3 separate regions of the Homo sapiens genome follow, and regions 1 and 2 are each linked to region 3. The links come from fine-mapping of genetic effects on plasma protein levels. A gene starts in region 3. Each other region holds a variant in brackets. All regions are shown on one strand. Distances are from middle to middle. Region 1 has its middle 260 kb from the start of HINT1. Region 2 overlaps LOC107986449 (a long non-coding RNA gene). Region 3 holds the start of CSF2 (colony stimulating factor 2).

Evidence for each region. PIP is the chance, under the fine-mapping model, that this variant and not a neighbour inherited with it causes the effect. Protein levels are from antibody-based Olink assays in UK Biobank. Linkage for the fine-mapping came from a reference panel and not from the study's own genotypes, which makes the PIPs less certain.
Region 1: its variant is fine-mapped to the plasma level of the CSF2 protein (UK Biobank, PIP 0.95).
Region 2: its variant is fine-mapped to the plasma level of the CSF2 protein (UK Biobank, PIP above 0.99).

What each region holds. Positions count from the first base shown.
Region 1 is chr5:130,902,226-130,904,990 of GRCh38, reverse strand. No RefSeq gene overlaps it. Among named protein-coding and RNA genes, the nearest start is that of HINT1, 260 kb to the left of the region's middle. The variant A/G (reference allele first, on the strand shown) is at 1,221.
Region 2 is chr5:130,853,331-130,856,095 of GRCh38, reverse strand. The region is part of intron 1 of LOC107986449 (a long non-coding RNA gene); the gene reads left to right. Among named protein-coding and RNA genes, the nearest start is that of HINT1, 310 kb to the left of the region's middle. The variant A/G (reference allele first, on the strand shown) is at 1,288.
Region 3 is chr5:132,072,002-132,074,732 of GRCh38, reverse strand. CSF2 (colony stimulating factor 2) reads right to left here and starts at 944. Exons shown (of 4, transcript NM_000758.4): 1 at 751-944; 2 at 611-652. The coding sequence starts at 909.

The sequences.
Region 1 (2,765 bases), 1.2 Mb after region 3:
GTATAAAGTTTTATATTTTACATTTGGGCCTATGATACACTTTGGGTTAATTGTTGAACAAGTTGTGAGGTATGGGTTGAGGTTTAATTCTGCTTTTCCATACAGATGTTCAGTTGTCCCAGGATCATTTGCTGAAAGGACTATACTGTCTCCACTGAATTCTTTTGCACATTTATCAAAAGCCTATTTTGTTCATATTTGTGTAGATCTATTTTTGAATTCTCTATTCTGTTCTTTTAATCTATGTGTCTATTATTTATCCAATAACACATTGTGTTGTCTACTAGTCTGAATCCTCAAAGTTTTTTTTTTTTTTTAAATTGTTTGGGCTATTCTAATTTCCTTGTCTTTACATGTAAATTTTATAATCAGCCTTCTCTCTCCCTGTTTTTTTTTTTGTTCTTAAGTCTACATGGCTACATCCAGTCACTTTCTTTCTTTTTTTATTATACTTTAAGTTCTAGGGTACATGTGCACAACGTGCAGGTTTGTTACATAGGTATACATGTGCCATGTTGGTTTGCTGCACCCATCAACTTGTCATTTACATTAGGTATTTCTCCTGGTGCTATCCCTCCCCCAGTCCCCCACCCTCCGACAGGCCCCTGGTATGTGATGTTCCCTGCCCTGTGTCCATGTGTTCTCATTGTTCAATTCCCACCTATGAGTGAAAACGTGGTCGTTGGTTTTCGGTCCTTGTGATAGTTTGCTGGGAATGATGGTTTCCAGCTTCATCCATGTCCCTGCAAAGGACATGAACTCATCCTTTTTTATGGCTGCATATTATTCCATGGTGTATATGTGCCATATTTTCTTAATCCAGTCTATCACTGATAGACATTTTAGTGGGTTCCAAGTCTTTGCTATTGTGAATAGTGCTGCAATAAACACATATGTGCATGCGTCTTTATAGTAGCATGATTTATAATCCTTTTGGGTATATATGCAGTAATGGGATGGCTGGGTCAAATGGTATTTCTAGTTCTAGATCCTTGAGGAATCAACACACTGACTTCCACAATGGTTGAACTAGTTTACACTCCCCCAACGGTGTAAAAGTGTTCCTATTTCTCCACATCCTCTCCGGCATCTGTTGTTTCCTGACATTTTAATGATCGCCATTCTAACTGGCGTGAGATGGTATCTCACTGTGGTTTTGATTTGCATTTCTCTGATGACCAGTGATGATGAGCATTTTTTCATATGTCTGATGGCTGCAT[A/G]AATGTCATCTTTTGAGAAGTGTCTGTTCATATCCTTTTCCCCTTTTTTGATGGGGTTGCTTTATTCTTGTAAATTTGTTTAAGTTCTTTATTTTATTTTATTTTATTATTATTATACTTTAAGTTTTAGGGTACATGTGCACAATGTGGAGGTTAGTTACATATTATACATGTGCTATGCTGGTGTGCTGCACCCATTAACTCGTCATTTAGCATTAGGTATATCTCCTAATGCTATCCCTCCCCCATCCGCCCACCCCACAACAGTCCCCAGAGTGTGATGTTCCCCTTCTTGTGTCCATGTGTTCTCATTGTTCAATTCCCACCTATGAGTGAGAATATGTGGTGTTTGGTTTTTTGTTCTTCAGGTAGTTTACTGAGAATGAGGATTTCCAGTTTCATCCATGTCCCTACAAAGGACATGAACTCGTCATTTTTTATGGCTGCATAGTATTCCATGGTGTATATGTGCCACATTTTCTTAATCCAGTCTATCATTGTTGGGCATTTGAGTTGGTTCCAAGTCTTTGCTATTGTGAATAGTGCCGCAATAAACATACGTGTGCAAGTGTCTTTATAGCAGCATGATTTATAGACCTTTGGGTATATACCCAGTAATGGGATGGCTCAGTCAAATGGTATTTCTAGTTCTAGATCCCTGAGGAATCACCACACTGACTTCCACAATGGTTGAACTAGTTTACAGTCCTACCAACAGTGTAAAAGTGTTCCTGTTTCTCCACATCCTCTCCAGCACCTGTTGTTTCCTGACTTTTTAATGATTGCCATTCTAACTGGTGTGAGATGGTATCTCATTGCGGTTTTGATTTGCATTTGTCTGATCGCCAGTGATGATGAGCATTTTTTCATGTGTCTTTTGGCTGCATAAATGTCTTCTTTTGAGAAGTGTCTGTTCATGTTCTTCACCCACTTTTTGACGGTGTTGATTGTCTTTTTCTTGTAAATTTGTTTGAGTTCATTGTAGATTCTGGATATTAGCCCTTTGTCAGATGAGTAGGTTGTGAAAATTTTCTCCCATTTTGTAGGTTGCCTGTTCACACTGGTGGTAGTTTCTTTTGCTGTGCAGAAGCTCTTTAGTTTAATTAGATCCCATTTGTCAATTTTGGCTTTTGTTGCCATTGCTTTTGGTGTTTTAGCATGAAGTCCTTGCCCGTGCCTATGTCCTGAATGGTAATGCCTGGGTTTTCTTCTAGGGTTTTTATGGTTTTAGGTCTAATGTTTAAGTCTTTAATCCATCTTGAATTAGTTTTTGTATAAGGTGTAAGGAAGGGATCCAGTTTCAGCTTTCTACATATGGCTAGCCAGTTTTCCCAGCACCGTTTATTAAATAGGGAATCCTTTCCCCATTTCTTGTTTTTCTCAGGTTTGTCAAAGATCAGATAGTTGTAGATATGCGGCGTTATTTCTGAGGGCCCTGTTCTGTTCCATTGGTCTATATCTCTGTTTTGGTAACAGTACCATGCTGTTTGGTTTGAAGTCAGGTAGCGTGATGCCTCCAGCTTTGTTCTTTTGGCTTAGGATTGA
Region 2 (2,765 bases), 1.2 Mb after region 3:
TTCTCAGGAGAAAGGCATGGACTCATCCGACTTTTTTCTAGTGTTTTTAACCTCTATTTTCACCAATCATGGGCAGCAGAGTAGTGGAACAGCACAAATATGGTGGTGTTGGCATTGCTGTGAGCCAAGATGTACCCTAATTTTGTGTTTGTCACAGTTGGTCACTCTCATCAGGGCTGATATGGTCATTGGAAGAATTTTTTCTCTTTATACTAGTAATTCCTTAAAGTTCAGCATTCAAGCACAGAATCTTTATCAGGTTTACATCTACAGCTCTGCTTATTTCTATTTCCATTAGTTCTTGCTCAGATTGTGCAATGCTACAGTTATGACTGCTGATGCCCAACTATGACAAAATGCTCCCTTTTGTACTTCTGGAGCAGGATGGACTCACCCACCACACCATTCTATTTTTACAAAGAAGAATAAACTTTTGAGCTGAATGAAGGGCTGTTTGAAAGATTCTCCTCCAGTACTCACAAGTAATTTACCCTGCAGTTAAGTCCTGTCTCCACTACCAAATATTTTCCTCTCCATTTCTACAGATCTGTTAATAATGGCCTATGGGCCTCCTGGAGTTTTGCTATTTAATTATTTTATGTTGGTTAATGCAGAAAATGAATCTGGACAGTACTTTATTTCAATCTGTCTTCAAGGTCCTGGGGAGATTTACTGAATATGGCAAGCTTTGTTTAATGTTCATTTAGTTCTTTCATGTCCACTTACTGTGGAAAAGAATGACTGAGATGAATGGTGACTCCGTGGCATATTTACTTGCCCAGGTGGAAAATTGTTGCTGCTGCTTTCAGAAAAACTTTCCAACCTAAATTAAGGCCATATTCCTTGAAGTTAAAATGGCAAAAGACAAATCTATACATACTATAAAATATATATTGTCTTTTTTTGAAATCATACTCTTTGATTTTTTTTTTCAATTTTATAGCAGTAAAGTTTCAATGAACTCAAAATGATATTTTTGTTTCCTCATTTAAGGAGTAGTGCCAGCAGACATAGTATCTATTTCTAGTTTTGACTCATTGCCTGACCTTAAGTAGGTCATTTGAGCTTTTAGGTCCTTCATTAATAAAATGGGAATATTAGTATTTATATTTTTCATGGAAACCAACAGAATTCTTATTCAATGAAGAATCATTGGCATGGTTGAGAAGGTGTTGGTTGCTCCCACCACCCAAAGCATTCACATTTTTACCATGTTTTCAAATTACTTGAAGATTTTGACTATCTTCCGATCTTTTCTTATGTTTAAAAGACAGTTCTGATGACTAC[A/G]CTTCATTTTCTGATCATTGCAGTACTCAAGGATTGTACATTAAGGCTAGGCACAGTGGCTCATGCCTATAATCCTAGCATTTGGGAGGCCGAGGTGGGCAGATCACTTGAGGTCAGGAGTTCGAGACTGGCCAACATGGTGAAACCCTGTCTCTACTAAAAATACAAAAATTAGCTGGGGTGGTGATGTGTACCTGTAATTCCAGCTACTAAGGAGGCTGAAGCACAAAAATTGCTTGAGCCGGGGAGGCAGAGTTTGCAGTAAGCCAAGATTGCCCCACTGCACTCCAGCCTGTGTGACAAACGAGACTCCATCTCAAAAAACAAAAGGATTGTACATTAAGCATTGGCCACCTGATGCTTCAGATCCCTTCATTATGGAATCACGATTGCCTAAGTACACTAGAGACTTATAGGCTTATTTTGATTTGTGCAAATCTAGGAAGTTATTTGGGGTACTAAAATAGTTTCTTAGTATTATGAAAACCCTTTCCTTATTCCAGAGTCCATTGAACCTGATCATATTGATTATATTAAAAATGTTTCCATAATTCTCTCTGTTATAAATGGAGGTTAAAACAAAGATTATAGGACATAGTCTGATACCAGAACTATATTTTTCTGAAACTTTCTTCAGCTGCATTCTTTCCCCTTTAGGAATTTACAGTTGAAAGACATTTATATCTTTTTACTATCCAATCACACAGAATCTAATTATATATTGTTTTGCTTCTGCTCTTCTTTGCTGTAGATGTTTTAGAACCTTGAGAACATTCCAAAACTAAGTATGATTCAAGAAAGGCTAATGCTTTTCAACTTTAGTTTTCTTTTACAGTTTTTGTCTTTAAGAACAGCATATGCCATGCTTACTTTGCTTATCTTTTAGAGTGACTTTATTTGTAATGATCACGGCTACTATATCCCAGTTACCAAGAATTTGATAGGAACCATGCTAATAACTAAATACATATTTTCTAACATGTAGCTTCAGTATCTCAGTTGTCATAAGACAAGGTTATTATTCCATAGGTATTAGATATGTGCTAATCATTACATAAAAATATTACTTTGTAATTGTAACATCATTGTAAGTGGATAATCTGCTTAATATTGGAAGTGGAATAATTTTCTTCATTATTAATTTGTTCTATTATCTATGTCTCATAATAATTTGGGTAATACATAAAGTTCTATGACATTTAAAATTGTAGTCATGCAGAAATTGCTTGGTTGTTCCTATAAAGCTAAGTAGGAAAATATAGGTAAACAGACGTGTTTTGAATAATATTTAGGGACATCTAAAATATGAATCTGGACTCACAAATGTTTAATTTCATTCCATTTGGAAGTCATGTTAGTAGTGGTTAAGTACATAAGTTCTGGACTCCAACTGCTAATGTCTAAATATATGCTCTGCCACCTTCTTACTATATGACTTTGGGCAAGTTACATAACTTCCCTGTACCTTAGCTTTCTCA
Region 3 (2,731 bases):
GCTGCTGCCCCCAGCCCCCAGGAGTAGGGCTTGGGAGGGGCACAGGCTGGGTCCAGTCATAGACCCTGCCCTGTCCATGGCAGGCACGAACCTGCCCTTCTCACTGCCCCGCCCAGGCCACCCTCAGCGGCACCTGGAGAGGAGCCCAGCCTTAGGGAAGGAGGTGACTCTCACCCCATCATTCAGGGAGAGGGGGGTGGGGCCTCACCTGGACCTGCTGGGTGGGCAAGGGTTGTTCCTGAAACCCCTCTGTGCCTCTCTGTAGTCAGCACTGTCTCAACAGGACTTGGTCTCGGGGCACAGTGAGCGCCCCAAACCCACAGCTCCTGTCTCATGAAGTGACCCCCACTTTACCACCTGTCCCCTGGTGACTCCTGGCCATTGAATGCTAGGTCTGCCCATGGCCGCTCAGCTGATAAAGGAGCTCATGTGACTGCCATAGGGGCACGGCCAGCAGCCTCTTGAGCACCCAGTTGCTACCCCCTCCTCCTGCAGCCAGCTGACTGGAGAGAAAGTGGACAACCCTGTGTGGTGCCATCTAAAATGGAGTCCCCACCTCCACCCCAGGGCAGGGGCTTCTGGAAAGCTATGTCAGAGAGAAGCATCTTACCTGGAGGTCAAACATTTCTGAGATGACTTCTACTGTTTCATTCTGTAGAAAAGGAAAATGTCATGTTATCAAGCTGACAGGCGTGGCCAGTCAGGGGCCAGCTGGGTGGCCTAGGCACAGGCCCACATTCTCTCACTTACCATCTCAGCAGCAGTGTCTCTACTCAGGTTCAGGAGACGCCGGGCCTCCTGGATGGCATTCACATGCTCCCAGGGCTGCGTGCTGGGGCTGGGCGAGCGGGCGGGTGCAGAGATGCTGCAGGCCACAGTGCCCAAGAGCAGCAGGCTCTGCAGCCACATCCTCCAGAGAACTTTAGCCTTTCTCTCTGTGTACTGGGCTCACTGGCAAAAGAGCTCTTAAATACACAGAGGAAATGATTAATGGTGACCACAAAATGCCAGGGAGGCGGGGGAACTACCTGAACTGTGGAATCTCCTGGCCCTTATCAGCCACACATGGGAACGGTGAGCCTTTTCCCTAGGTGGTCAGGCTTGGGGGTTTTCATTAATGAACCTTTCCAAGAACCGACAGCCCACCCACCCGCCTTCCTGAGGGCTCTCCAGCCCTCCCTGGGCAGTCTGAATGGGCCTGAGGCTGCCCCCTCCCTCTGAGGGGCACAGTTTGGACTTCCTGGCCTGGAATGGCTGGGGTGGGGCGTGGGAGACACTTAGATAGGGCTCCCCATCCTGCCTGTAATCCCAGGGGCCTTTGGGCAGGCTATGCCCGCCCTGGTGCCTCATTCTGACTCCAGCCTTCCTCTTCTCTGGCCACTGTGAGAGACTTGAGTGTGAGGGGAGCTCTCACAGACCTGCCCCACTGACAGTTCACATGGGCTCCCACCCAGGACCTGGAGCAGGGGGCAACCTCAGTCCAGTAAGGGGGGACCCCTGCCCCTGTGAGCAGAGGGAATGACCACCATGTGCACATCCAGCAGCGAGACTGCAGCCACTCTCAGCAAGCTTCAGAGGGGGTGTGGCTGGGTCAAGTCGGGACCCAGAGTCTGACTCTTGGCTCTGGAGCCACCTTCCTGAGTGACTCCCCTCTCTGGTTATGTGAACCTTGATTCCCTCTGCAGAGCAGGTTTGCCCCTCTGAGGTTCGGACTACACTCCTATATGTAGCCCCCAGAAGACACCAGGAGCTTCAGGCTGGCTCCAGGGCTGTGGCTGCATCCATCTCAGGTACAGGGACAATGGCTTCCCCAGCAAGGCCCTCCAGGCTTAATTTCCTACATAACCCCAGCATCCCCCAACTCCAGAGGCCTTTCTGTGGAAGTGTGGAAGTAGGAAATCTAAAGGCTCTTGAGGGGCTGACAAGTGTTTGATTTTCACAATGGAGTTCAGAGAAGACAGCACGAGTTTGTGTTTGCACAAGGTATCTGGCTCAAGCTGCCCCATGCCTGGGTTTCATAGCTAAAGGGGTGTGGGCCCACACGTGCCCATTTCTGGGTGTATGTGTGCTGCTGTGATTGGTTGTACATACAGGTGCCTGGTAGAGGGGAGGATGTTTTCCATGCAGATGCATCTATTGAGTCCTCTTACCTGCTTTATGAAAGGCTCCAGGCCTCTGAAGGTGACTCTGATACTGGAGAAGCTCCCTACTCCAGGTGCAGTGCCTCTGGGCCCTAGAGGCTGATTCAGCCTAAACCAGTGGGGTTGGACACAAGCGAGAACATTCTGCTGGACTCAGGTTGGCGAGCCTTCAGAGAGCAGGTGGAGTTCATGGCTTTAGCACTGTGGTCTGAGTCTGCAGCCCTGGCCAGTTTCCCTGTACTGTGGGAGTTTTTCTGACCTTGCATAGAGAAACCAAACCTTAGTCCTCCAGACCCCACTGTGAGGCCAGCCCCATCCATCTGAGCCTGCGTAGAACACTCCTAGTGGCCAGGCTGGGGTGGGAACATGAAATGTCCAGGCCCTGGCCCTTTCTCCACCTTTTTTGCAAGGCCTTGGCTCAGCTCTTTCCAGGGAGCTCTCGGGGGAGAGATGAGGACATGGATACTACATGTAGATATCACATGTGTTGGATAGCACCCTGGAGGCTGGAGGGCAGGGAAGGGAGCCATAGATAGTGGTTCAGCTGATGGCCAGGGAGGCAGAGAGCCTGTATGACCCATCTGGGAGAG